Homo sapiens: one gene and its partners. The protein of the gene in region 1 interacts with the protein of each later gene in a pairwise test. Each region holds a gene or a part of one and is shown in the gene's direction. Other genes may lie near its edges.

Evidence for each region.
Region 2: the proteins of MSRA (region 1) and HPCAL4 interact in binary tests that used the Homo sapiens proteins (3 or more experiments, as listed by UniProt).
Region 3: the proteins of MSRA (region 1) and SELENBP1 interact in binary tests that used the Homo sapiens proteins (3 or more experiments, as listed by UniProt).
Region 4: the proteins of MSRA (region 1) and CTNNA3 interact in binary tests that used the Homo sapiens proteins (3 or more experiments, as listed by UniProt).

What each region holds. Positions count from the first base shown.
Region 1 is NC_000008.11:10,057,292-10,064,291, forward strand, and holds part of MSRA (mitochondrial peptide methionine sulfoxide reductase isoform a precursor), read left to right. Parts: intron 1-551; exon of another isoform or gene 552-6,209; intron 6,210-7,000. UniProt on the Homo sapiens protein: Has an important function as a repair enzyme for proteins that have been inactivated by oxidation. Catalyzes the reversible oxidation-reduction of methionine sulfoxide in proteins to methionine.
Region 2 is NC_000001.11:39,681,414-39,688,448, reverse strand, and holds part of HPCAL4 (hippocalcin-like protein 4), read left to right. Parts: intron 1-3,837; 5' UTR 3,838-3,845; coding exon 3,846-4,007; intron 4,008-4,296; coding exon 4,297-4,512; intron 4,513-5,715; coding exon 5,716-5,913; 3' UTR 5,914-7,035. UniProt on the Homo sapiens protein: May be involved in the calcium-dependent regulation of rhodopsin phosphorylation.
Region 3 is NC_000001.11:151,369,686-151,376,761, reverse strand, and holds the start of SELENBP1 (methanethiol oxidase), read left to right. Parts: upstream 1-4,056; 5' UTR 4,057-4,120; coding exon 4,121-4,124; intron 4,125-6,783; exon of another isoform or gene 6,784-6,862; coding exon of another isoform or gene 6,863-6,992; coding exon 6,993-7,049; intron 7,050-7,076. UniProt on the Homo sapiens protein: Catalyzes the oxidation of methanethiol, an organosulfur compound known to be produced in substantial amounts by gut bacteria. Selenium-binding protein which may be involved in the sensing of reactive xenobiotics in the cytoplasm.
Region 4 is NC_000010.11:67,686,196-67,693,230, reverse strand, and holds part of CTNNA3 (catenin alpha-3), read left to right. Parts: intron 1-7,035. UniProt on the Homo sapiens protein: May be involved in formation of stretch-resistant cell-cell adhesion complexes.

The sequences.
Region 1 (7,000 bases):
AGATGGTCTCATTGTGCTTCAGTGCCTGACCACCAAGCAATACTCTGAGAACTTGGGAATGAGGGACAAGGGGAATTCATACTTGTTGAAGTGTATTGGTATTGTATTGTTCAAAATAGGCTGCAGGTAGAAGGCTCATAATTAAAACCTCAGAGTGCCTTCCATTTTGTTAAGATGTGGGTTCCTTACAGTCAGAACTGATCTTATTTCCGGTGAATTATTGTAATTATTGTAAAAGTCCAATATGGTTTGGTTTTGTGTCCTCACGTAAATCTCATTTCGAATTGTAATTCCCACCTGTTGGAGGAGGGGCCTGGTGAGAGGTGATTGAAACATGCGGGGGGTGGACTTTCCCCTTGCTGTTCTCGTGAGAGTGAATGAATTCTCACGAGATCTGATTATTTAAAAGTGTGTAGCTTGCCCCTTTGCGCTCTCTCGTTCTCTCCTGCTCCTTTGTGTGGAGATGTGCCAGCTTCCTCTTCTGCCATGATTGTAAGTTTCCTGAGGCCTCCCTGGCCATGCTTTCTGTACAGGCTGTGAAACTGTGAGCTAATTAAACCTCTCTTCTTTATAAGTTACCTTGTCTCAGGTAGTTCTTTATAGCAGTGTGAAAACAGACTAACACAAAGGCCGTCTTTCATGTGGAACTTGTTTTTGCGTATTGGAAACATTGCTAATCTGTGTTTGGGAATGAATCTTACCTTTTTATAGAGTATCAGTGGGATCAGGTGTTTGGGATTTGGAGCTGTCCTTTAAAATAACTTTGACAAGTTTGATTCTATCTTGGCTTTCTTGCGTTTACATTCTTAGTGTTCATTGTATTTTTTTGTTACAGTGCTTTTTTTGGGCACTAACATGTTAAAAACAGATGTAGAGCACCATCAGAAGGTATTCTCTTTTAAGAACTTTAAATAGAAAAAAACAGTAGAACAATGTATTAATCCAAAAGGTGGCTCTTTGAAAAAAAATTGAACTACACTAATGACATTTGTAAACAATGAGGTAGTCTCAAGAAAAAGATGAAAGTACAAATATACAAAATAAGTCCTGAGAAGAGGAGATCATAAAAACAGATAATTTGAAGAATGTTAGGAGACTACTGAACTCTTTTAAAATAAACTTTAAAACTTTGATGAAAATGATAATTTTTAGGAAAATATAAGTAATCCAGATTGACCCCAGAAGAGGTAGAAAATTTAAGCAGGTTGATTTTTATAGAAGAAATAAAGCTATGAAAGAGTTACCTCCTCTCAAAGCATTGTCTAGTTTCACCAAGATTATCTACCAAATATTTAAAGAGCAGATAATTCCAGAGCAGGAATAAATGGCTATTTCCTTGACATAGCATATCTATTTGAACCCAAAAGCCCATTTTAGGCTTAATGAAGAAACGTTGAGATTTCCACTGATGTTCAGACCAAGACGAGGAGTGAGAACAGCCTAGTACCTTTTACAGTGTGCACTGTTAGCAAAATTTTGGTGTTATCTTAGTTTTAATCCCACCTTTAAAAATAAATTCTACCTTTTTTGTATTAAGGAAACTTCCACCTTTTTATTAAGTGTGATCTAGTCGTTGATTTATACTTTGTAAGAAGGTAAGATTCAAACCTTTAAACTTCTTAATGTTTAATTTCTCCCAGGCCACCTAAATTGGATTATAACATGAATTGGCCTACTTTGAATGATAGATTATTATTTTACATTGTAGGTACAGCCAGTGTGATCAGACAAAGCAATTCGAGAACTACAAAAGAGGAAAAAAGATCAGAAGTTCTTAAATACATAAGGGAATGCAGCATTTGATAAAGGTGGTATCTCAAGTCAGTGGGGAAAAGGTGAAATATTCAATAAATGGTATTGGGACAACTGGGTAGCCATATGGAAAAAAAGGTTGGATCTCTACACCGTAAGCCAGGATAAATTTCAGTGTTTGATGGAATAAATTCCAGATATATGATGATAATAGCTCACACTTGTTAAGTGTCTTGTATGCCAGGCACTGTAGTAATTTACTAATGCATTTAATCCTTACGGTAACCCAAAGAAGTAGTAACTGTTATCACCACTTATAGATGTGGAAACTGAGGCCCATAGATGTTAGGCAGTTTAAACAACATACATTGCTAATAAGTAGTGGAGCTGGGATATGAACGTAGTCAGTTTGGCTATAGAGTTTCTGGCCTTAACTCCTATACTCTTTTTCCATTTAGGTTATTGTTAAAAATGAAACAGTATGAGAACAGAATGTTTTTATAATCTGGGTGTGAGGAAAGCCATGACTTAACCATGACTTGAAAATCGGAAAACGTAAGACTGATAAATTAGATTATATCACAGTAAAAAGACTGATAAATTAGATCATATCACAGTAAAATTCTTCTGCATGGCAAAAATCATCATAAGCAAAGCCAAAAGACAAACGATGGTAAATAGTTGCAATTCATATCATAGGTGAAGGACCAATCTTTTTAATTATATAAGAAGCTTCTAGAAATAAAAACACCAACATCCATTGGCAAGGTAGACGTTAGGTTATGAACAGACCGTTTACAGAAAAGTACAATTGGCTTTTAAGCATATAAAAAGATGCTCAACTTCACTTATAATGAGAATGCAAATACCATTTTTCATGTTTCAGACTGGCAGAAATCCAGAACTTTGACGATACACTGTGTTGGTAAATTCTTAAGGAAAAATACACTCTTGTACATGGCTGGCAAGAGTATAAATTGGCTCAACTCCTATGGAAGGCAATTTGGTTGTATCTATCAAAAATTCAAATGCATATACCTTTTGACCCAGGAATTCAATTTATGGGAATTTATCGTCTGGACATAACTGCTATGCATGCCAAATGATGACTGCACCAGGTTATTCACTACAGCTTTGTTTGCAATAGCACAAGACTGGAAACAACCCAGGTGCCTATCAGTAGTGGCTAGTTACATAAATTACAGTTCATTGTCACAATGGATATGCAGCTGTAAAAAAGAATGTGGAACATCTGTGTGAATGGGTATGGAGGGATTGCCAAGATGTAGCATTAAGTGAAAAAAGCAAGGTCTCAACAGTGTATATATACAGTATGCTAACTTTTCTGTGAACAGAAGGGAAAATAATATGTATAGAGAAACTTTGAAAGGATAGCTAAGAAATTAATGGCTGAGGAGGGGGCTGTGTAATGAGGATGGATGGAAGACATAGACTTTTGATGCTTTTTTGTAACTTGCTTCTTGTAATGTGACTGCATTTGTGAATTACATAACTCCACTTTGAAGATGATCTGTCTCGCTGTTTTTAGTCTAATTGACCACCTTTCTGTCATCTTTTGTCATACTTACTTGAAGTTTTTTTTTTTTTCAATTTTGCTCTTTCTTGTCAAGTACATCTTTTTTCTGCAACTTGCTTTTGTAATCAAAATCTACATTTTGGCGTGATTGAAAAATCAAAATTTAGAGAGTGAAATCGGAATAAGTTAATCCAAGTCATTTTACATTTCATAAATATTCATTTTTATTGAAGCATCAATTGTGATGGCATCATTTATACAAAGAACAGATCTTTGAGGACAAATTCCTTCCACTATTATGTAGAAGGCATTATGTGTATTTCTTGTATTGTGAGTGATGTACGTTGATTTTTAAAAGAAAATGATAGAAAACAGTTTTCCTTTTAGAAAAGTTTTCCCCAATGTGTGATTAATTTCTAAATTGTAGGATACAGAATTGTTATTTCCCCTCTTTGCATCCTGCCCAGAGCTCTTTGATTTTACAACCTGTTCCAGAACGTTTAGTGTTTCCCTGAAGTCCCTGGGATGAGGGTATTCTGTACCTCCCACAATGTGATCCTTACCTGCTTTCCCAGTCTTTTTCTCCACTGTGTCCCTGTAGAACCCCATCTTCTGCCTAATGTGTTTCACTTTTCTGCCTCTGTATTGCTCACACGACCATACCCATAGCGTGGATTGCACACTTGGATCTTTTTACTTAGTCATTCATTAAATGTCTATTAAAGGCCTGCTTAGGAAAGACCTGTATTGTCCATATATCCTTATCTTCAAGGAAGCATCCTTGAAATTTGCCCTGCTCTAATTCCCCTTCTCCCGGAAACCCATCCTTTTTCTCTCCAACCTAAGTGATCTCCTTCTTCTCTACTGGACAAATAGCTATGTACTACTTTATGAATCCTTTCTATGGCATCTTGCGTTGCTAATTAGATGTCTTATTGCACGGAACTCGCACAATCTGTCTCATCTCCCCACGTAGTGAGCTCACAGCACTTCACCAAGAGTGCTGCCCACCAAGAACTCACAGCACTTCACCAAGAGTGCAGTCAATAGTGTTTTATGAACGTTGGGAAGAATATGGTTAATGCCTGAGAACAAAGACCAGAAATGTCATCTTTTCGTGTGACCATCATGATACAGAGAAGTTAACAGAGCTGCCCCATTGTCCATGGGGCATGTTCCGAGTTTTTCCAGTAGTGGTGATAGATTTTGGCTGATTTCTCTGAACTTTTCCCTGAGTTATTTTTGTGACTTTGGCCAGGATGAAGGGTGGGGAACCCCTCATCTTTAAATCTCTGAGCAGAGACTTGCTAGGCATCTGCAGCAGTGGTGGGGAAGAGGTCATTAAGCTCAGTGCAGTCCACGTGGGGCCTTGGCCTGCGATCTTCAGGCTCAGGAGTTATTGTGAGCCCCTGCGTTGGGTGGGGGAAGGGAGGAAAGGAGGACAGCTGAGGCAAGGAGTGGGAGCCTGGCTGGGGGAGGAGACATCAGCCTGGGGCATGGGTCTTATGAGGGTGAGTGGCCGCCAGGCCCTCAGCAAGGACCAGAGTGGAAGCCTCTTTGCTAAGCTTGGTCTGGCTCCTGCATGGGTCCCAGCAGCGTGCCATCAATCATCCGTTCCTCCTTGGCAGATGGCCAGGCTCCTTCCCATGCAGCAGCAGCAGCAGCTGGCTGGCCCTGCCCTCCTGTTTCAGCTGACATCGGCAACCCTCTGGGGATGTATGGAAGACTGAATTCTACAAGAGATGCTTTCAGGATGTCAGTGCATGATGAATGAAAGTTGTGGATCTTCTACATGCTGCTCTTATCTTCCTCACATCATAAACTCCAAGTTTGAGAGCATCACAATATTCATCGATATGTAGCACTACACAATGAACTGAGGGCAGGAATTGACTTACTCTTTGTACCCGGAACACAGTAAGCTGATGATAAATACTTGTTGAAAGACTGTAGCATATAACCTGTTGAGTTGTTTGAGAGGCCAGGGTTCCTCTGAGCAGTATCATGCCAACAGACACACGCATGTTATGTATTATGGCACATAATCGGTAAGTCCATAACTGTTGGAGTAATGGGGACGAGCATAGTGCACTGAAGGGTACAGGAAGCATCGGGGTTTGGGGGCTCCGGCCTACATTTGTGGTTATGTTACTGGTTTTTCCTATCGCATCAGAAAACTTTATTAACTAGATGGAATTTCTGCAGCCAGATGAAAATGTATGTGATAGGAGTGGATCGTGTGATAGGAGTGGATCGTGTTAGCTGCGTGAGATTGCTAGTGAGGCACTGAGTTGTCATCAGGTAGCAATTCCACCATTTCCACTGGAATTCCTTAGCACATTTTAAGCTAAAAGAGGTAAGAAGTCAGAAGGGTAAGAGTCTGGCCATGGCTTTGCTTTCTTCTCTCACGCTTCCAACCACCCTCGTCTGAAAGCTACATTTCACCTTGTGAAAGTTCTGCCCTTCTGTTTCCAAATACGAGATGCTGTAAGCCTGAACTCAGATCTAAAACCAAACTTAGCATTTTGTTTCCAAAAGATTGACTACATATTTTAATTTCCCAACCTCTCTCAGTGGCACTGCTCTCCTCTCAAATCCCAGAAGCCGCAGTCAGGGTCATCTTTGAGCCTTACCTCTACATTTGAGTTGTCCTTCCTCCCATGAGTCCCGATGACTTCTTTTCTTCATTGGTCTCTGATCTGTCTTCACTCTCCCCTGCCTGAGCTGTTCAGAGCATTATCAACATCTACCTAAAATTTGAATTTCATTCTCTCACTGTTTAGGGAACAGCAGCGACTTGGACCTGTCCAATGACACTCTTCAATGCTGGACACTTGCTGTAATTTGCTGCTGGCCTCAGTGTTTCAGATCTCCACTTCCACCCCGAGGCTGGCTCCTGCTCTGAGCTCCTTCCTTGCAGGTTGCTATGGTCTGAATGCCTATGTGCCCCTACTGAATTCATGTTGAAATCCTCACCCCCCCAGGTGATGGGGGATTAGGAGGTGGGGGCTTTGGGAGGTGATTAGTCATGAGGGTGGAACACGCATGAGTGGGATTAGTGCCCTTGTAAAAGAGACCCCAGATAACTAGCTAGTCTTTTCGGCCATGTGAGGACATGGTGAGAAGGCGCTGTCCGTGAACCAGAATTTGGGCTCTCACCAGACACTGAACCTGCTAGCGCTTTGATCTTGGACTTCCAGTCTCCAGTATTGTGAGAAAGAAGCTCCTATTATTGATAAGCTGCCAGGTTATGGTAAATTGTTATAGCAGTCTGGCGGACTGAGACACAGGATGTTTTTTCCTTGCAGCCCTGTCTAAAACATCTTGGGGCTTTCAAGGCTAAACTTGGCTTCTTCCACTTCTCTGCCGCCCCTTGGGGCTGTTTCAGCTTAGATTGCTCTTAGAGTTGGAGCTGGAACTAGGGCTTTGGGGCTCTGTTTTGTGCTTTCATTCCAGTGTCTCTCCTTGGGGAGATGAAGGTAGAATCCCTTTCCTGTATTTGGTGCTTGGTGGTAGTCATTTCCCCCGCTGTGTTTTCGGAACTCCTAGCCTGGTTATAGAAGCTGCTGGCATGATCAGAGTTCTCAGATTCCAGCTGCTTTCTCCTGGATATCCTATCAAAATGCCCTCTCCGTTCAGTGAGATACTCGATGACTTTGACTCATGATGCCAAATGATTGATTTTTCCTTCACCAGAGACCTGCGTGTCCT
Region 2 (7,035 bases), on another chromosome or scaffold:
ATTTCAAAATAAGAGACAACAGGACTTGATGGCAAGTTAGACCTAGGGCAAAGGGAAGGGAAAAAATGAAGGTAACTAAGATTGTGTTCCCCACACCCCGGGGATGAGGGAGAGAAGGAAGGGGCAACAGAGACAGTCTGACCATCTCTGGTTGGGAGCGAGTCTGGCTGTAGACTTGCTGTCTCAGAGGTGCTGGTGGACACCCCTAGGGTGGCTATCTCCTGGGTGTCAGAGATTGTGGCCCCAGATGGTTCCACTGCGGCCAAAAGGGAGATCAGAGCTCTGATTTTCCCAGAGGGCAGATGTGGGTGGAGAAGGTCTGTGCTGAACAAGAGTAGCCATGATTTGGAGACGGTGGCCCAGGCAGGTAGCACGGATTCAGCCTGAGTGCTCATCTGGGCCCTCCCACTGACCTGCTGTGTAACCCTGAGCCAGTTTTCTCCTATCTCTCAATTTCCATTTTCACTGAAATAAGGGGATGATCTTAAAGGGCACGGCCAGTTTTGACCTTCTTTTCTTAATTTTTTATTTACTTATTTTTTTTTTGAGACAGGGTCTTGCTCTGTTGCCCAGGCTCGAGTGCAGTGGCTCAATCACGGCTCACTGCAGCCTCAACCTCCTGGGCTCAAGTGATCCTCCCACCTCAGCTTCTGAGCAGCTGGGACTACAGGCACATGCTACCATGTCTGGCTAATTTTTAAATTTTATGTAGAAACAGGGTTTCCTTATCTTGCCCAGGCTCAGCTTTGACCTTCTGATGATCTAGAGGGAATGAGGAGAAATAAAGGAGGAGGCATAGTCTGGGTCTGAGACCCAATAAAAGCAGGGAACAGGAAGGACCCTAGGAGACAGAGAATTGTGGAGAAGGCAGCACAGAGCAGGGAGGAGAAAAGGGGTATAAGGTGAGAGCCACACAGACACTGTGACACACACAGAGAGACGTGTGCACTCTGACAGATTTGCAGCCTCAGACATTGACATGCTCCCACACACAGACCCAGCCCCTCATGCTGACTCTCAGGCACATCCTACGGAAGACAGCTGGAGAGGCTGTGCCTCCCCCCATCAGACATCTCTGCCTGACTTCTCCAGCTTCCTTGACTATACCCTGAGCCTTGAGAGTCCTTTGGATTTGGGAGAGGGGTGAGGCCTGCCTCCTTTTGCCTATGGGTGTTCCAGAGGCATCCTTGCTCTGGCCTCAGTGTAGCCATTTTCCGCCCAGCCTCAGGTTCCTGAAGATGGCATGCTCCCCCTCCCTGGCTTTTCCTGAGGGCATACAATTCCTCATCCTCTGGGAGTGGGGAAGGATGTTGCTACCTGCACTGCTCCTTGGTCTTCCTTATGGCCCAGTGGAGGAATCTGAGGCCCAGAGAGGATCTGTAACTAGCCTGAGGTCAGCCCAGCAAAGGGGAGTGGGAAGGAATGGACCAACCTCAGATTTGCTATTTAGTGTTTTCCCAGTTGTAAGAATTAGAAGCCCACTGGCAGACATCGGGCTATGGGAGTGGAATTCCTTCTGCCAGCCCAAGGGCTTCCTTTTCCAGAGTATCTTGAGGACAGGCTACCTGGGGTGGGAGCCTGACCCTCTTCCAAAGAGACTCTAGGCAGGTCAGAGGCACCTCCCAAGCCATGTCCTGGGAAACCCAGACTCTGCAGGGACATTCCTCCCAGGGAGGTCAGAGAGGAGGGTCCACTCTGCCTTCAAGGTCTGGCCACACTTCCTGAGGAGGGCCTGTACCTCTTCAAACACTTCCCCTGGCACAGCCCACTTACGGGCTCACATTCCCACTGGGGAATAACTCTTGATCCTTCCCAAACCTGCTTCTCAGCAACAACACTTCTATCCACTGAGGCTCAAATCTGAGCCTCTGCCTCAACTCCTCTGTTCCTCTTACTCCCACATCCAATCAACTGCAAAGTCCTGCCAGTGCCCTTCTTAACGTCTCAGCCCATCCACGTCTCTCCACGACCCTTACTCTGGCAGCATTGTCTCTCACCTGAACCGTGTAGCAGGCCCCTCCCTGCTCTACCTACCTGCCCCCACCAAAGGTCATCTTGCATGCTGTGGCCAAAGGAAAAATTCTTTTTTTTCTTTTTTGAGACAGGGCCTTTCTTTATCGCCCAGGCTGTAGTACAGTGGTGCCATCTCAGCTCACTGCAACCCCTGCCTCCCAGGCTCAAGTGATCCTCCCATCTTAGCCTCCCAAGTATCTGGGACTACAGGCATGCACCACCACACTCAGTGAATTTTTTTTTTTTTTTTTTTTTGAGACGGAGTCTCACTCTGTCGCCCAGGCTGGAGTGCAGTGGAGCGATCTCGGCTCACCGCAAGCTCCGCCTCTGGGGTTGATGCCATTCTCCTGCCTCAGCCTCCCAAGTAGCTGGGACTACTGGCGCCCGCCACCATGCCTGGCTAATTTTTTGTATTTTTAGTAGAGATGGGGTTTCACTGTGTTAGCCAGGATGGTCTTGATCTCCTGACCTCGTGATCCACCTGCCTCAGCCTCTCAAAGTGCTGGGATTACAGGCGTGAGCCACTGCGCCCGGCCAATATATTTTTTTTTTTTTTGAGGTGGAGTCTCACTGTGTCACCCAGGTTGGAGTGCAGTGGCGCGATCTCAGCTCACTGCATGCTCTCCCTCCTGGGTTGACGCCATTCTCCTGCCTCAGCCTCCCGAGTAGCTGGGACTACAGGCGCCTGCCACGACGCCCAGCTAATTTTTTTGTATTTGTAGTAGAGACAGGGTTTCACCGTGTTAGCCAGGATGGTCTTGATCACCTGACTTCGTGATCCACCCACCTTGGCCTCCCAAAGTGCTGGGATTACAGGTGTGAGCCACCGTGCCCGGCCGCGCCCAGCCAAATTTTTAAATTTTTTGTAGAGACTAGGTGTCACTGTATTGCCTAGGCTGGTCTCAAACTCCTGGCCTCAAGCTGTCCTCTCATCTCAGCCTCCCAAGGTACTGGGATTATAGGCATGAAATACGGTGCCCAGCCTGGAAAAATTTTAAAACACATACCTTTTCTTGGGTCCCCAGTGACTCGTTCAAGACTGGGTATATCATAAGCATTCTGTAAATATTGTGGAATGAATGCAATCTTCCCAGCCCTTGTTTTAAAAAATCCCAGGAGCGTCTGTTCCCTCCAATTTCTTGGCATGGATTGGAGGCCCTTTGTAACCAACCATCTGCCTCTTTGACCCAGTTACAAGTTATTGAAGGTTGGCTCATGTCTGCTTCATCTCCATCACTGGCACAGGGCCTAGCACACAGTCAGTCTCAATAAATGCTCAGGGAATGAATGGATTAATGAAAAGCCAAATGTCAGTAGAGGATTTCTATTTGTATAGAGGAAAGAGGGAGAGAAGCTCCCTGCTGGGGTGGCCCAAGAAAGCCTTGAGGAAGAAATTGGGAGACAGTGCCAAGGGGACACACAAGGAACCTACCTTGGGTCCCTTCTCAGGACAGAAGCCTGCCAAGGAGGGTGGGGGCTGACTTCAGAAAGCCCTAAATGGCAAGGAGAGGAGTCAAGGCCTTAGTCTGTGGGCAGGGGAGCCATGAAAGGTGTGAGCAGGAGGGGAGAGGATGAAGACTGTGGCGTGCTGCACGGTCAGTGAGGAGGAGAGCTGAGACCTGGAAGGCGGGAGACCCCCGGGGCTAGGAGAAGAAACCTACCTGAATGCAGGTGTTGTGAGGGGAGAGGAGGCCCCATTATGGGGGAGTGTCATGAGGGGAAGGAACCTGCAACCCCGCCCTGTGTGTGGCAGGGGAGGGGGCAGCTGTGGCTGAGGCAGGGCCTTTCCCTGGACCCAGTCGGAGGAATCCCTCTGTCCCACAGGCCCCGCCATGGGGAAGACCAACAGCAAGCTGGCCCCCGAGGTGCTGGAGGACCTTGTTCAGAACACTGAGTTCAGCGAGCAGGAGCTGAAGCAGTGGTACAAGGGCTTCCTGAAGGACTGCCCCAGCGGCATCCTCAACCTGGAGGAGTTTCAGCAGCTCTACATCAAGGTGGGCGGCCGGCACCTGGTGTGAGGGAGCCAAGTACCCGGGTTGGGGGAGGCGAGGAACCGGGGGTGAGGGAGGCAGGGCACCCTGGGATGAGAAGAGGCGAGGCACCCGGGGTGGGAGGGGAGGCGAGGCACCCGGGGTGCGGGGGAGGTGAGGCACCCGGGGTGGCGGGGGCAAGGCACCCGGGGTGGGAGGAGGCGAGGCACCCGGGGTGCAGGGGAGGTTCCCTGAGATGGGGGCGGGGTGGGCGGGGCTGTCGCTGCGCCCCAACCCACCGCACCCCCCTCAGTTCTTCCCCTACGGCGACGCCTCCAAGTTCGCGCAGCACGCTTTCCGCACCTTCGACAAGAACGGCGACGGCACCATCGACTTCCGGGAGTTCATCTGCGCCCTGTCGGTCACCTCCCGCGGCAGCTTCGAGCAGAAGCTCAACTGGGCCTTTGAGATGTACGACCTGGACGGCGACGGGCGCATCACGCGCCTGGAGATGCTGGAGATCATCGAGGTGCGGGGCCGCGCGGGCGCTGCTGTTCCCGAGGCCAGCGCTTCGCCATCCCCGCCCCTGCCTCCGCGCTGCTCTCGGGCTTCGGGGCCTCCCTGCTGCTCCCCAGCCTGCGATCCCGCCTCCTACCACCCCGCTACAGGCCCGGGCTAAATGCTTTACCCGACACTCGACGGGGCGGAGGGGTTGGTTACTGTCCCAAACCCCATTTGGCAGAGGAGGAAACGGCCGGGTTCCTGATTCCAATCCAGGGAGTCTGACCTCATAGCTGATGTTTTCAACTCATTCTGTCAACAGGCAGGGATTGAGCGCCTGCCAGTTCTTGCTTTCATGGGGCATTCCTTCTAGTGAGAAATTTTTTTAAAAAATAAATGAATGAAGACATGCGGGGTCAGGCCGTAGGTGCTATGAGGAAGATACACTAAGCAAAGTGCAGGGAGAGCGCGTGATGGAGAAGTTACTTTATATAAGATGGAAAGTTAGCAGCAGCCTGAATGGGGTGAGGCCTTTACTGCAAGATGCCTGGGGGAAAGCGTTCCATGCTGAGGGGCAATTAAGGCAGGTCGGCCTTTCTCTGCAGAGTTCAAGGAGGGGCCAGGAGGCCCGGTGGTGGGAGAGCCATGAGAGGGAGAGAGTGATAGGAAGGTGGTCATACGGGGAGCCAGGAGCCCCATCAGTAAGGTCTCCACGGAGTTGGGCTTCTGGCATGTTTCATCCACATAAATATTATTTAGTCTAAATAAAAAATTAGTTGAGGGCTGGGCGTGGTGGCTCACGCCTGTAATCCTAGCACTTTGGGAGGGTGAGGCCGGTGGATTACCTGAGGTAATGAGTTCGAGACCAACCCGGTCAACATGGTGAAACCCCGTCTCTACTAAAAATACAAAAATTAGCGGGACGTGTTGGTGCATGCCTGTAATCCCAGCTACTCAGGAGGCTGAAGCAGGAAAATCACTTGAACCCAGGAGGCAGAGGTTGCAGTAAGCCGAGATCGCGCCATTGCACTCCATCCTGGGCAACAAGATCGAAACTCTGTTTCAAAAAAAAAAAGAGTTGCTCATTAAATATCCAGTCTTAATGACCACATATACCTTCCAGTATCCTCACCAACCCCCAGTGTTCTCCCTGCCAGATCCCTTTCCTTCACCCGCTGCTTCTCGGGGCCCCTTGTGGGTGTTCACACCTCCCTCCTCCTTCCCTCACCAGGCAATCTACAAGATGGTGGGCACCGTGATCATGATGCGCATGAACCAGGACGGGCTCACGCCCCAGCAGCGTGTGGACAAGATCTTCAAGAAGATGGACCAGGATAAGGACGACCAGATTACATTGGAGGAGTTCAAGGAGGCAGCCAAGAGTGACCCATCCATTGTGTTGCTGCTGCAGTGTGACATGCAGAAGTAGAAGCTGGTGAGGGGCAGGGTCCCTGGCCAGAAGGGGCATGGCCACCTCCCAACCTGATGACCTCTCTGGCTGGCCTCCCAGGAGGAGGGACACTCCAGCCCCCCTCTCTGGCCCACCCAGTCCTCTGCCCAAGCCCTTCCTCCCCTCCATCAAGATCTTTGAGGGACCACCTCACCCTGCAAAAGAGACAGGTCCTCCAGTACCCTGTCTTCTAGCCCCACCTCCCACTTGGCCAGAACCAATGTCCATTGGGCATAGGGGAGTTGGCTTTTGCCCCAGGAGGTGAGGTTAAGGAGTTGGGGGCCTGGGGTTCTGGTTAGGAATTCTCTTGATCCTGGGATTATGCTTTATAGGATGTGGTCCCACAGGCCTGTCACAGGGCCAAATTGGGTCTGTCCATTCCTGAGGCTCCAGATCCCATAAAGGGGGTCTCTTCCCCATCCCTTCTACTCTACCTGGCCCTTCCAGCCCCAGCCTTTGGAGCGTTCATTCAGTCCTTTCTTCAGCTAATGATTACTGAGCACCTGTTTGGTGCTAAGGATATGGTCATTTACAAGACACATCTTGTGCCCTCTGGAAGCTCATAGGGTTGTGAGGCAAACTTCCAGCCGTCAGGGTCTCAGCTAAGCAGAAGGTGCTGGAAGGCTGGTTAGTCTGGGAGGAGCTATTTCATCTTCCAGCTCAGCTCCACACAAAGCTGCAGAAGGACGAAATGAAAAGCATTTGGAAGTTTAGGAGCCACGTGAGTGAAAGTTTTAAGAAAAATGAAATTTATGTCATACTTATTTTTTTAGTACCCTTTAAAGGAGCTACAGTCATTTTATTATTTCAGGAGGTTAAAATATACTCTATATTACTTGGTTTCTTATAAAATGATTAAATGAATAGAGAAAATATTAATTTTCAAGGGGAAAAAACCTGAGAAGAAAGGGAGAAAAGACCATGAAATTTACCAGATAACACTTTTTAAGACTAAGTCCTGAGCTGCCACTCTCAGCAGTTTTTGCTGCTTCAGCTCTTCCTTTTTATTACCTTTTTCAATTCAACAAGCAACTTTCTGCTACATACTTACTCCGGTTGGGTGCTGACTTCAGGGACAGGAAAAAGCAAGGTTTGCAAAGA
Region 3 (7,076 bases), on another chromosome or scaffold:
TCTTCCTTCTCTTTAAGCAATAGAGGTAAGGAGTCAAGACGATAACATTTGCTTTTTAAACACCTTCTGTCCCCAACCTTAGCATCTCCCTGGATATGATAGGCCCCCAGCCACTCTTCAGTGCTGCCCACTGGGACACAGGCTTCTGATAAAACTGAGTGGCGCTGCAGTACTAGGAGCTTAAAGGGTTACCACTCCAGAGACATTCACTGTAGCCAGGAGGTGAGAAGAGGCCATCTGGTAGTAACACAAAGAAATAAACTGCTATTGGTGAAGTTTCAAGCATCAATGGCAGGCCAAAGGGAGGATATTTCTGAGTGGATTGGCAGTGAGGAGAAAGTCCTCCAAGTGGTTCTCAAATCATGCTTTTTATAGACAGCCCTGGCAGAGGGCATTAAAAAAAATTATTTCAGCCGGGCGCGGTGGCTCACGCCTGTAATCCCAGCACTTTGGGAGGCCGAGGCAGGCAGATCACGAGGTCAGGAGATAGAGACCATCCTGGCTAACACGGTGAAACCCCGTCTCTACTAAAAATATGAAAAATTAGCCAGGCGTGGTGGCAGGCACCTGTAGTCCCAGCTACTCGAGAGGCTGAGGCATGAGGATGGCGTGAACCTAGGACATGGAACATGCAGTGAGCCAAGACCTTGCCACTGCACTCCAGCCTGGGTGACAGAGTGACGTTCCGTCTCAAAAAAAAAAATTATTTCTCTTCTCTGAGCCATGTTATTACCCTGAGCAGCAGGCTTTGAACTCACTGTCATTCAGAAACAGTGCATTAAGTGTGGGCAACGGAGTGAATTGGGAAAACTCTGTTTCCTGAATGTAAGATGAAGAAAAAGGCATTTACAGGCCAGACACGGTGGCTCACACCTGTAATCCCAGCACTTTGGGAGGCCAATGCGGGTAGATCACAAGGTCAGGAGTTTGAGACCAGCCTGGCCATATGGTGAAACCCCATCTCTATTAAAAAGTACAAAAATTAGCTGGGCGTGGTAGCATGCGCCTGTAGTCCCAGCTACTCAGGAGGCTGAGGCAGGAGAATCACTGGAACCTGGGAGGCGGAGGTTGCAGTGAACAGAGATCACGCCACTGCACTCCAGCCTGGCGACAGAGGGAGACTCTGTCTCAAAAAAAAAAAAAGAAAAGAAAGAAAAAGAAAAAGGCATTTAACCTCTCCAGCTGTGCCATGGGCGGAACCTGAGCTAATTGTTAGTGTGTAGGGCCCGGCATGGCGCCCGTCACCTCTAGTAGCAGGTTCTCAGTAAACGCTACTCCCTTCACATCTCCTACACATCCCTGAGGGTATGGAGTTGGTCTGTTAATATAAGGAGAAATGAGCAGAACAGGGCTCTGAAACTCTACTTAGCTGGTGAAAACTCCAACCTCTCCAGCCAGTCCTGCCTCAGACCTCCATGGGCTGCTACCTTTATGCCTTACAGGCATTTTGTGCACGTTTGTGCTTTTTGGTTTGTTTGTTTTAGTTCTTTTGTACTGTTTGTTTGCATATAATTCTGTACCCATACATACCAAGCAACCCCACCTAATGCTGCATCACCCCTACATTACCCTACTCCTTCACAGCACTTATCTGAAGTGATTTTATTTATTTGTGTATTTGCATGATTATCAGTCATCTCCCCTAAAAAGTCATCTCCATGAAGGTAGCAACTTTGCCCTGTTCACCACTTTGTCTACCATATCTGGCTCAAAAGAGGTGCTCCAGAGGGAAGGATAGGCAGCTGGTTGGGAGAGCTGTAGCTCAAAAGGGACCGGGGCCAGTCCTTCTCCCCAGCATGGGCCCTCACTGTGGCCCTCACCTGCACTGCATGTGACCTTCCATCCTTCCTTTCATCTTCCTTATAGTTTTTCTTTTAATATATTTATTTGAGCTTTTAGTTACAAAAGCAGTACTTATTATTTTTTTAAAAATCCAAAATTAACTTTGGGAGACCAAGGCAGATCACTTGAGCCCAAGAGTCTGAGACCAGTCTGGGCAACATAGTGAGACCCCCCATCTCTACAAAAAAAATTTAAAAATTATCCAGGTCAGCCAGGCACGGTGTCTCAGGCCTGTAATCCCAGCACTTTGGGAGGCGGAGGTGGGTGGATCACTTGAGGTCAGGAGTTCGAGACCAGCCTGTCCAACATGGTGAAACCCCGTCTCTACTAAAAATACAAAAATGAGCCAGGTATGGTTGTGGGCACCTGTAGTCCCAGCTACTCGGGAGGCTGAGGCAGGAGAATCGCCCCTCTACCTTTACTGCCTCCCTCTGTAGCCCAGATTAGGATAACTTCCCCAACCACCTGCTGGCTGTAGAGCAAGAGTTCAGGGAGAAAACCACAGGCAGAGGTGAGGGGTGCCATGGAGTTGCTGCAGAGACCAGCCAGGTCAGAGCTCAGGAGCATGAAAGAGGTAGTCAATGACAGACCACAACAAACAAAATAACAGCCTTTTTTTTTTTAAGTTAATGACTCAATAATTTTTTATGAGAAGGTGGGGATAAAGTTTCTTTCTCTTTCAGATCTTGGGTGGTGGACTAACCCAAGCCAAGAAGCCGGAGAATAGAGAGGAGGCAGGAGATGGAGACCTCAGGAGGAGGAAGAGGGGAGGGCCAGAGGGAAGGGTGAAGGCAGGGTGAGTGGAGGTAGTCAGGACAGGAGGAAGCTGGCAAAGACAAGGAAGCAGCCTTCAGGGCCTTCCCCGTGGGGCAGCTGCACACACAAGACTCTCTTTGATGCCTGGCAGGCTGATGGCACAATGGTGAGGATAATAGATGCAGGATGGAGCCAAGAGGGGTTGAGTGGCGCTGGGGATAAGAGAAGACCCTTGCCCCGGGCAGCCACAGGGAGTCTTCCTTGATGGGCACATGATCCCTCACTGATGGGAGCCAGGAAGACAGATACCCAATGCACCAAGGCCCAATTTTGCTCCCCTTCCCCCACTCTGGTTTGGAAACCCTGTATTCTACTTGCAATCTCAAGCCCAGACTTTATTCTTTTTCCTAGCCAATAAAAACTTCACCCCAGAGCTTTTATCCAAAGAGTATGAATATCTGGAATAAGAGGGCAATCTTAGGGAAGAAGTGACCCTGGCTGATGGGCCCACAGTCCCGGGTGCCCCTAAATGCTAAGAGACAGGTCCAAATACAAAGACGAGCATTTGGAGACACAGGAACACATACGTGCGCAGGCTTACACAAGCACATGCACAGCCACATAGCCACACACTACACATACACAAGCACTTATGCACATGTCCACACAGGCGTAGATACTCTAGCAAGCACATACTCACAGAGGCGCGCACACACACACACACACACACACAGGCGTAGATACTCTGGTAGGCACATACAGAGGCGCGCACACACACACACGCACAAATACACACAAGCACACTCACAGGCACATTCACACACGTGGAAATTCACACACAGGCACAGATACACACTCATGCAGGCACGTGCACGAGCAACACGCAGGTATACAGGAACACACACATGCCCAGACACACAAATCCACACACACCCAGGCACCCACTAAAGAGCACGAGCTGGTCAGGGGCAGCGGCTCACACCTGTGATCCCAGCACTTTGGGAGGCCGACACGGGTGGATCACCTGAGGTCAGGAGTTTGAGACCAGCCTGGCCAACATGGTGAAATCCCTTCTCTACTAAAAATACAAAATTGCTGGGCATGGTGGTGGGTGCCTGTAATCCCAGCTACTCGGGAGGATGAGGCAGGAGAATCACTTGAACCCAGGAGGCAGAGGTTGCAGTGAGCCGAGATCGCACCACTGCACTCCAGCCTGGGCAAGAGTGAGACCCTGTCTCTAAATAAATAAATAAATAAATAAAGCACAGGCTCCCACACATACACACTTAAACACATACACGCACACCCCATAATTCAAACACCAGTTGCCCTAGGCCACTTGAGAGTATCCTGGCCAGCTGCCCTGAGTAGTTTACTCTGGGCTACAGCCCGGGCCCTCCTCCTTCTCTGCCCCACCCCCAGCTGGTTGTATAAATTCCCTCCCTTCGCTCCTTCCCCGGAACAGCGGCCTCTGACACCAGCACAGCAAACCCGCCGGGATCAAAGTGTACCAGTCGGCAGCATGGGTAAGGAGAGGGGTTTCCAATCACCCATTGCCTGCTCTGTCTGCCCCTAATTTGGAAGGCCCTCCTCCAGAAAATGCTAGAAAACCTGAGTGGGGAGCTGGGGAGGGAGTAGTGGACTCTGCTTCATTGTCCCCAGTCTGCACACCCCCTCCCCCACCACCCCACTGCATTTCCCAGCTCAGCCAAACTTTCTGAGGAAGACGGGCAGAGGCACTGCTGGGAGATGGGATCCTGGGCCCTGACTTGGCTCCATCCAGCAGAGGCTGGGACCAGGGTGCCTTTCTGCAGCTGGGAAAATCAGATGGGCGCTCTTAGAAAACACCACTAGGTCCCTGGCCCTCACATAGTAGAGAGGTGATCCTGATTTCAGCCATGGGCCAACTTTGTACTCCAGCGAGGTAGGGAGTCCAAAGCCTTTCTGTGCCCAGGTCACTCTCTAGCTACTCCACACAGCAAAGCTCTCTGGGAGGGAAATCAGAGACCCCCACACTCTTTCACTGGGGACCTGTTTCAATGCCTCCCCCACCCCTAAATCCCCCTTGGCCCTGCTATTCCTCCATCTGTAGGCTTCTGGGTGACAGGCTAAGAAGGAACTGAGGTTTGGTTGGGAGGTCCTTCCCCGCTCGGGGCTGGCTCTTGAGCTGGCAGAATGCCGAGCTGGCAGAATGCCCAGCAGCCAGCCTGACATGGAAAACCCACTTGAGCTTTCCATGAGTCCATCCCAAACCCAAAGCTGCTCCGAGACCTTGCTTGAGATGTTTCAGATGGGGGTATTCCCCAGAAAGAGGAATGATGCTCCCTGGGGCTGCAGTGGCATGCCAGGCCTGACCCTAAGAAATGCTGGGGCTGGGGTTGCTGGGGTGTGGGGTGGGCCGAGGCTGCAGAGCGGGCAGCTCCATCTCTGCACTTTTACTTCCCTCTCAGCTTCTCCCTAGCTTTGTATTTTTTGTATCTCTGTCTTGAGGTCTTGGAGTTTTAAAATCTCCTTTCCCTTCTGTATCCAGCAACCTCCTTCCCCACCCCCTGTCATCTGGTGCCAAGCCCCGACTTAGCAAGATTGTGTAACAGAACCAGTCTCCTTAACTCCTGTGAACTGGACCTCTCTCTCTCTCCCTGCCCCACCTCCAGCCCTCTCGCTGGGCATCGAGCACTCCCTGGCATTCTCCTCTCCTCTGGCACAGCCCTTCCCATATTTACACAGTAATTCATTATTTTTTTTTTTTTTTAGTCAGAATTTCACTCTTGTTGCCCAGGCTGGAGTGACTGCAGTGGCGTGATTTCGGCTTACTGCAGCCTCCACCTCCCAGGTTCAAGTGATTCTCCTGCCTCAGCCTCCCAAGTAGCTGGGATTACAGGTGTATGCCTGTATTTTTTAATACAGGCTAATTTTTAATACAGGGTAATTTTTGTATTTTTAATAGAGACAGGGTTTTGCCATGTTAGTGAGGCTGGTCTCAAACTCCTGACCTTAGGTGATCTTTCCGCCTCAGCCTCCCAAAGTGCTGGGATTACAGGCATGAGCCACCGCACCCGGCCTAATTCATTTTTATGAAAGGCCTTTGGAATACATTGTCTTATTTGTCCTCCATATCTACCTAGCAAAGTAGGTAGAATATCATTATTGCCCACTTTTCGTAAATGAAGAGGAGAAAATGGAGAAACGGGGCGTCAAAACTGGGACTTGAAACCAGGTTTCCAGACTCTGAACGCTGTTGCTGCCTCTCAGCTTCCTAAGTCTCTTGGCTGCTGCGAGTGGGAGTCCCAGGCCCCAGTGGAGGCCCCACTCTGCCTACTCCTGGCTCCCCACTTGCGGCCCAGCTGTGAAGGCAGAGGCTGGACTGGCCACAGGACAAGGCAGGAGACAGGGCCCAGGCCTGTGGACTCCACTCCAGGGTTTCTTTCAGCCTGCCACCCCCTCTGGGTATTCTTTAACCCCTGCTCCCCAGCAGGCCCCAAACTCTGATGCTGGGGTGCTGGTAGCTGTGATGTCCCAGCCCTACTGCACATCTGCTGACTTACATCCTGGAGATTAGCATGGCCCCTCTTGCCAGACTTCAGAGATAGGGAGGGTTGCTCCCTATCTCTCTGGTGGGCAGGCCTCTGGGCTCTCCAGAGTTGGGCCAAACACCTTACTTTACAGATAAAGGAAGTGGGGCACACCCAGGGGTAGAAACCAGCCTGAGGACTTCCAGTTGGTATTAGCCCCAGACCCTCGGTTATGTAATCCAGCCCTTGGCTAGCAGCCTGGGATCAGGACCCAGGGGAGAGAAAAGCAGGAAGTGGCCTCCCCCTGATATAGAAGCATCTTGGTGAAGGGAGCTGAGCAGGCGCCACCCCACTCCCTGAGAGCAGCTCCTCAAGAACAGCCAAGGGTGCCTGGGCTTCGACCAGACAAACACAGAGCTGCACACCTACTGCACCCTCGTGTTTACTTCTCGTAAAAGCCCACTGTGAAATTCTTACCATCTCCATTTTACAGAGGATGCAGAAATTGAGGTCGAGGAGCTTCAGTACTTTGCCCAAGCTCCCCTGGCTAGTCAGTGGTGGGCTGGGGTTGGGCCCCGAGTCCGTGTCATATTCACTACACCACACGACCCCGGCTGCATCAGCCCTCCTCCCACCCTCCCGGGGCCCTGCTGGACTGTCTGTCCACCTTCAGGTCATGTGTCTCCAGCTCTTCCCAGCACAACCTCACCCTCCTCAGGGCTCTGAGGGGGCGGAGAGGACAGGCCAGAGCGATGAGGCTGGAGTGGGGACCTAGGCCAGCCGCACTGCCGTGGCCCGCTGGGATGTGTGCTGCAGAACGTGCGGAGGGAGCCTTCACCCTCCAGAGCGTGGCCCAGCCAATGCGCCCCATTGCTTCCACAGCTACGAAATGTGGGAATTGTGGACCCGGCTACTCCACCCCTCTGGAGGCCATGAAAGGTAATTGCCCATGGTCTGAGAGCCAGC
Region 4 (7,035 bases), on another chromosome or scaffold:
AAGGTGAACAGGACTGTTAGCCGATACATCTGATTTTTCACATGCTTAAATACTGTTTTTAACCACATTATTTTTGCCTGGGATTCAGCGAGTAATCTGTAACCAATTTAATCACTAGCTTCTAGCATATGATAGGTGACTTTGAGTTCCTGTGTGCAAAATGGAAGATTAGGTCAAGTTTATTTGGCACCCTCCCCACCTCTTTTCTTTGCCTTTCATTATCCTAACCAGGATGATTTTCTGCTTCAGATGCCTCCTGGCAATGGGGAAATTGATTTGAAGGAGAAGGCAATGTTTAGTGCAAAGAAAGTCTCTCAAATACTGGAACTTGAACAATGGAGGCCCCTACTTTAAATTAGCACTGTTCAAAATGTAATTAGAAGTTCCCAATTTTTAACTAATCTATGAAACGAGATAAGAGGCTTGTGCCTGAAAGTAAATCAGCTACACCCTAAGCACTTTGTAGCAAGACTTTTTTTTTTTTTTTTTTTTTTATTGATCATTCTTGGGTGTTTCTCGCAGAGGGGGATTTGGCAGGGTCACAGGACAATAGTGGAGGGAAGGTCAGCAGATAAACAAGTGAACAAAGGTCTCTGGTTTTCCTAGGCAGAGGACCCTGCGGCCTTCCGCAGTGTTTGTGTCCCTGGGTACTTGAGATTAGGGAGTGGTGATGACTCTTAAGGAGCATGCTGCCTTCAAGCATCTGTTTAACAAAGCACATCTTGCACCGCCCTTAATCCATTCAACCCTGAGTGGATACAGCACATGTTTCAGAGAGCACAGGGTTGGGGGTAAGGTCACAGATCAACAGGATCCCAAGGCAGAAGAATTTTTCTTAGTACAGAACAAAATGAAAAGTCTCCCATGTCTACCTCTTTCTACACAGACACGGCAACCATCCGATTTCTCAATCTTTCCCCCACCTTTCCCCCCTTTCTATTCCACAAAACCGCCATTGTCATCATGGCCCGTTCTCAATGAGCTGTTGGGTACACCTCCCAGACGGGGTGGTGGCCGGGCAGAGGGGCTCCTCACTTCCCAGTAGGGGCGGCCGGGCAGAGGCACCCCTCACCTCCCAGAGGGGGCGGCTGGCCGGGCAGGGGGCTGACCCCCCACCTCCCTCCCGGAGGGGGCAGCTGGCCGGGCGGGGGGCTGACCCCCCCACCTCCCTCCCGGACGGGGCGGCTGGCCGGGCAGAGGGGCTCCTCACTTCCCAGTAGGGGCGGCCGGGCAGAGGCGCCCCTCACTTCCCGGATGGGGCGGCTGGCCGGGTGGGGGGCTGACCCCCCTACCTCCCTCCCTCCCGGACGGGGTGGCTGGCCGGGCGGGGGGCTGACCCCCCCACCTCCCTCCCGGACGGGGCAGCTGGCCAGGCAGAGGGGCTCCTCACTTCCCAGTAGGGGCGGCCGGGCAGAGGCGCCCCTCACCTCCTGGACGGGGCGGCTGGCCAGGCGGGGGGCTGACCCCCCCACCTCCCTCCCGGACGAGGTGGCTGCCGGGCGGAGACACTCCTCACTTCCCAGACGGGGTGGCTGCTGGGTGGAGGGGCTCCTCACTTCTCAGATGGGGCGGCTGCCGGGCGGAGGGGCTCCTCACTTCTCAGACGGGGCGGTTGCCAGGCAGAGGGTCTCCTCACTTCTCAGACGGGGCGACCGGGCAGAGACGCTCCTCACATCCCGGACGGGGCGGCAGGGCAGAGGTGCTCCCCACATCTCAGACGATGGGCGGCCGGGCAGAGACGCTCCTCACTTCCCAGATGTGATGGTGGCCGGGAAGAGGCGCTCCTCACTTCCTAGATGGGATGGCGGCCAGGCAGAGACGCTCCTCACTTTCCAGACTGGGCAGCCAGGCAGAGGGGCTCCTCACATCCCAGATGATGGGCGGCCAGGCGGAGATGCTCCTCACTTCCCAGACGGGGTGGTGGCCAGGCAGAGGCTGCAATCTCGGCACTTTGGGAGGCCAAGGCAGGCTGCTGGGAGGTGGAGGTTGTAGTGAGCCGAGATCATGCCACTGCACTCCAGCCTGGGCACCATTGAGCACTGAGTGAACGAGACTCCATCTGCAATCCCAGCACCTTGGGAGGCCGAGGCTGGTGGATCACTCGTGGTTGGGAGCTGGAGACCAGCCCGGCCGACACAGTGAAACCCCGTCTCCACCAAAAAAATACGAAAACCAGTCAGGCGTGGCGGCGCGCGCCTGCAATCGCAGGCACTCGGCAGGCTGAGGCAGGAGAATCAGGCAGGGAGGTTGCAGTGAGCCGAGATGGCAGCAGTACCGTCCAGCTTCGGCTCGGCATCAGAGGGAGACCGTGGAAAGAGAGGGAGAGGGAGACCGTGGGGAGAGGGAGACAGAGACGGAGAGGGAGAGGGAGAGGCTGTAGCAAGACTTTCTAGATGAAGGAAGCACTCATTAACTTACATTCTGGTACAAGCTCCTTTTCTCATCGCAGACCTGCAGTTTGAGTAGCGTTGCTTAAGTTACACTGTATAAACATTTATCTCCTCTTGAGAGGTGAAGCTGGCTAGGCTTCAGGGTCAGGTGGGGACTTGGAGAACTTTTCTGAATAGCTAAGGGATTGTAAATGCACCAATCAGTGCTCTGTGTCTAGTCTAGCTAAAGGTTTGTAAACGCACCAATCAGCACTCTGCAAAAATGCACCAATCAGCGCTCTGTGTCTAGCTAAAGGTTTGTAAATGCACCAATCAGGACTCTGTAAAAACAGAACCAGTCACTCTGTAAAATGGACCAATCAGCACTCTGTAAAATGGACCAATCAGCAGGACATGGTGGGGGCCAAATAAGAGAATAAAAGCTGGCTACCTGAGCCAGCAGTGGCAACCTGCTCGGGTCCCCTTCCACACTGTGGAAGCTTTGTTCTTTCACTCTTCATAATAAATCTTGCTGCTGCTCACTCTTTGGGTCCGCACTACCTTTATGAGCTGTAACACTCACCGTGAGGGTCTGTGGCTTCATTCCTGAAGTCAGCCAGATCATGAACCCACTGGGAGGAACAAACAACTCCAGACGTGCTGCCTTTAAGAGCCGTAACACTCACTGTGAAGGTCTGTGGCTTCACTCCTGAAGTCAGCAAGACCACGAACCCACCGGAAGGGAGTAACTCCGGACACATATGAACATCTGAAGGAATAAACTCCAGACACACCATCTTTAAGAGTGGTAACAGTCACCGTGGGGTCTGCGGCTTCATTCTTGAAGTCAGCGAGACCAAGAACCCACCAGAAGCAACCAATTCTGGACACATTTTGGCAACCCAGATGGGACTCTCGCCTATTGCCAAGTGATGAGTACCATCAGACCCCTTTTGCTTGCTATTCTGTCCTGTTTTTCCTTAGAATTCTGGGGGTAAATACTGGGCACCTGTCGGTCAGCTAAAAGCAACTAGCGCGGCCGCTGGACTAAAGACACAGGTGCCAGGCTTTCTGGGATAGGGCTCTCTAACAATCCCTGACTCTATGGAGTTGGGAATGTTGGTTTGCCTGGAGCCAGCTTCCACTTTAATGGTACTTCCAGGCTGAGCCGAGGGTTGACAGAGAGGAAAGCCATTCAGCTCCGGGGTCCCAACAACAAGTTGGTTGACCCTGCGGCCATGAGTGGAACTCTCAAAATCATGTCACCCAAGCGAGACTTGCCCATCTATCCTATCTCCTGACCCTTGCCTCCTGGGTCCTAATGCCTGTCAGACAAACTTCCTCTCGCCTCTCTTCTCTGAGGCTAGTCCACTTCTAAAAAGCACTCCCTGTCTCTGGTGCTTTTCTAGTTTCTCCTATAAGAATGATTTCTAGTATAAACTTCAGGACTCTTTTACCTTCTTTAGGCACCCGGGCTCACCAATCAGAAAGACATAATTTTTGCCCAAAGTCCCATCTGGGCAAGGGACTATCTGGAATTTTAGGATCCCTCTTCAGACAAGCAGGCCTAACAAAAGCTATTCCTGAAGCTAGGATATGGGGAGCTTCGGAAATGGTATCTTTCCTATTCATATAAGTGAGGACAAAAAGCATCACTCTTCCAACTCTGGAGATCCTTTCCCTCTCTCAGGGTATGTCCGTCCAGTTCATTTTTGGGGCATAACATCTTTATAGGACAGTGGTAAGGTCCCAATACTAACAGGATAATGCTTAGGACTCTAACAGCTTTTTGAGAATGCATCGGTAAGGGCCACTAAATCCAATTTTTCTTGGTCCTCTTTGTGGTCTAAGAGGACAGGCAAGAATGCAGGTTTTTGAGAATGCATCAGTAAGGGCCACTAAATCTGACCTTCCTCGGTCCTCTTTTTGGTCTAAGAGGAAAACTAGTGTTTCTGATGCTGCGTCGGTGAGCACAACTATTCTGATCAGCAGGGTCCAGGGACCGTTGCGGGTTCTTGGGCAAGAGGTGTTTCTGTTGCTGCATCAGTAAGTGCAACTATTCCAATCAGCAGGGTCCAGGGACTATTGTGGGTTCTTGGGGAGGGGTAGAAACAAACCAAGACCAAGGGTGGTTTTGTCTTTCAGATGGGAAACACTCAGGCATCAACAGGCTCACCCTTGAAATGCATCCTAAGCCATTGGGACCAATTTGACCTGCAAACCCTGAAAAAGAGGCAGCTAACTTTTTTCTGCACTATGGCCTGGCCCCAATATTCTCTCTCTGATGGGAAAGATGGCCACCTGAAGGAAGTATAAAGTACAATCCTATCCTGCAGCTTGACTTTTTCTGTAAGAAGGAAGGCAAATGGAGTGAAATACCTTATGTCCAAGCTTTCTTTTCATTGAAGGAGAATACACAACTATGCAAAACTTGCAATTTACATCCCACAGGAGGACCTCTCAGCTTACCTCCATATCCTAGCCTCCCTATAGCTCCCCTTCCTATTAATGATAAGCCTCCTCTAATCTCCCCCACCCAGAAGGAAACAAACAAAGAAATCTCCAAAGGACCACAAAAACCCCTGAGCTATCATTTATGTCCCCTTCAAGCTGTAGGGGGAGGGGAATTTGGCCCAACCCGGGTACATGTCCCCTTCTCCCTCTCTGATTTAAAGCAGATCAAGGCAGATCTGGGGAAGTTTTCAGATGATCCTGTTAGGTATATAGATGTCTTACAGGGTCTAGGGCAAACCTTTGACCTCACTTGGAGAGATATCATGCTATTAGGTCAAACTCTGGCCTTTAATGAAAAGAATGTGGCTTTAGTTGCAGCCCGAGAGTTTGGAGATACCTGGTATCTTAGTCAAGTAAATGATAGAATGACAGTCGAAGAAAGGGGCAAATTCCCTACTGGTCAGCAAGCCATCCCCAGTATGGATCCCCACTGGGACCTCGACTCAGATCATGGGGACTGGAGTTGCAAACATCTGTTGACCTGTGTTTTAGAAGGACTAAGGAGAATTAGGAAAAAGCCTGTGAATTATTCAATGATGTCCACCGTAACTCAGGGAAAGGAAGAAAATCCTTCTGCCTTCCTCGAACAGCTATGGGAGGCCTTAAGAAAATATACTCTCCTGTCACCCGACCCACTCGAGGGTCAATTGATTCTAAAAGATAAGTTTATTACCTAATCAGCCACAGATATCAGGAGAAAGCTCCAAAAGCGAGCCTTGCGCCCTGAACAAAATCTGGAGGCATTATTAAACCTGGCAACCTCGGTGTTCTATAATAGGGACCAAGAGAAACAGGCCCAAAAAGAAAAGCAAGATCAGAGAAAGGCCACAGCCTTAGTCATGGCCCTCAGACAAACAAACCTTGGTGGTTCAGAGAGGACAGAAAATAGAGCAGGTCAATCACCTGGTAGGGCTTGTATTCAGTATGGTTTGCAAGGACACTTTAAAAAAGATTGTCCTACTAGAAATAAGCTGCTCCCTCACCCATGTCCACTATGCGGAGGCAATCACTGGAAGGCTCACTGCCCCAGAGTACAATGGTTCTCTGGGCCAGAAGCCCCCAACCAGATGATCCAACAACAGGACTGAGGATGCCCGGGGCAAGTGCCAGCTCATGTCATCACCCTCACTGAGCCCCGGGTATGTTTAACCATTGAGGGCCAGGAAATTGATTTCCTCCTGGACACTGGCATGGCCTTCTCAGTGTTAATCTCCTGTCCTGGACAGCTGTCCTCAAGGTCCGTTACCATCTGAGGAATCCTGGGATGGCCTGTAACCAGGTATTTCTCCCACCTCCTCAGTTGTAACTGGGAGACTTTGCTCTTTTCACATGCCTTTCTTGTTGTGTCTGAAAGTCCCACACCCTTATTAGGGAGGGACATATTAGCCAAAGCTGGAGCTATTATCTATGAATATGGGGAACAAGTTACCCATTTGTTGTCCCCTGCTTGAGGAGGGAATCAACCCTGAAGTCTGGGCATTGGAAGGAACAAACTCAAGGTCCATCCTTAAGCCTTCCCACAGGACAAAACTTTTCTTTATACATCACAAAGAGAGCAGGAATAGCTCTTGGGGTCCTTACTCAGACTCATGGGACAACCCCACAATCAGTGACATACCTAAGTAAGGAAATTGATATAGTAGCAAAAGTCTGGCCTCACTGTTTACAGGTAGTTGTGGCGGTGGCTGTCTTAGTGTCAGAGGCTATCAAAATAATACAAGGAAAGGATCTCACTGTCTGGACTACTCACAATGTAAATGGCATACTAGGTGCCAAAGGAAGTTTATGGTTATCAGACAACCGCCTGCTTAGATACCAGGCGCTACTCCTTGAGGGACCAGTGCTTCAAGTGCATACATGTGTGGCCCTCAGCCCTGCCACTTTTCTACCAGAGGATGAGGAGCTGGTCAAGCATGGCTACCAACAGGTTATAGTCCAGACTTATGCCACCCAAGATGATCTCTTAGAAGTCCCCTTAGCTAATCCTGACCTTAACCTATATACCGATGAAAGTTCATTTGTGGAGAATGGGATACGAAGGGCAGGTTATGCCATAGTAACAGTACTTGAAACTAAGCCTCTTCCCCCAGGGACCAGCACCCAGTTAGCAGAACTAGTGGCACTTACCCAAGCCTTAGAACTGGGAAAGGGA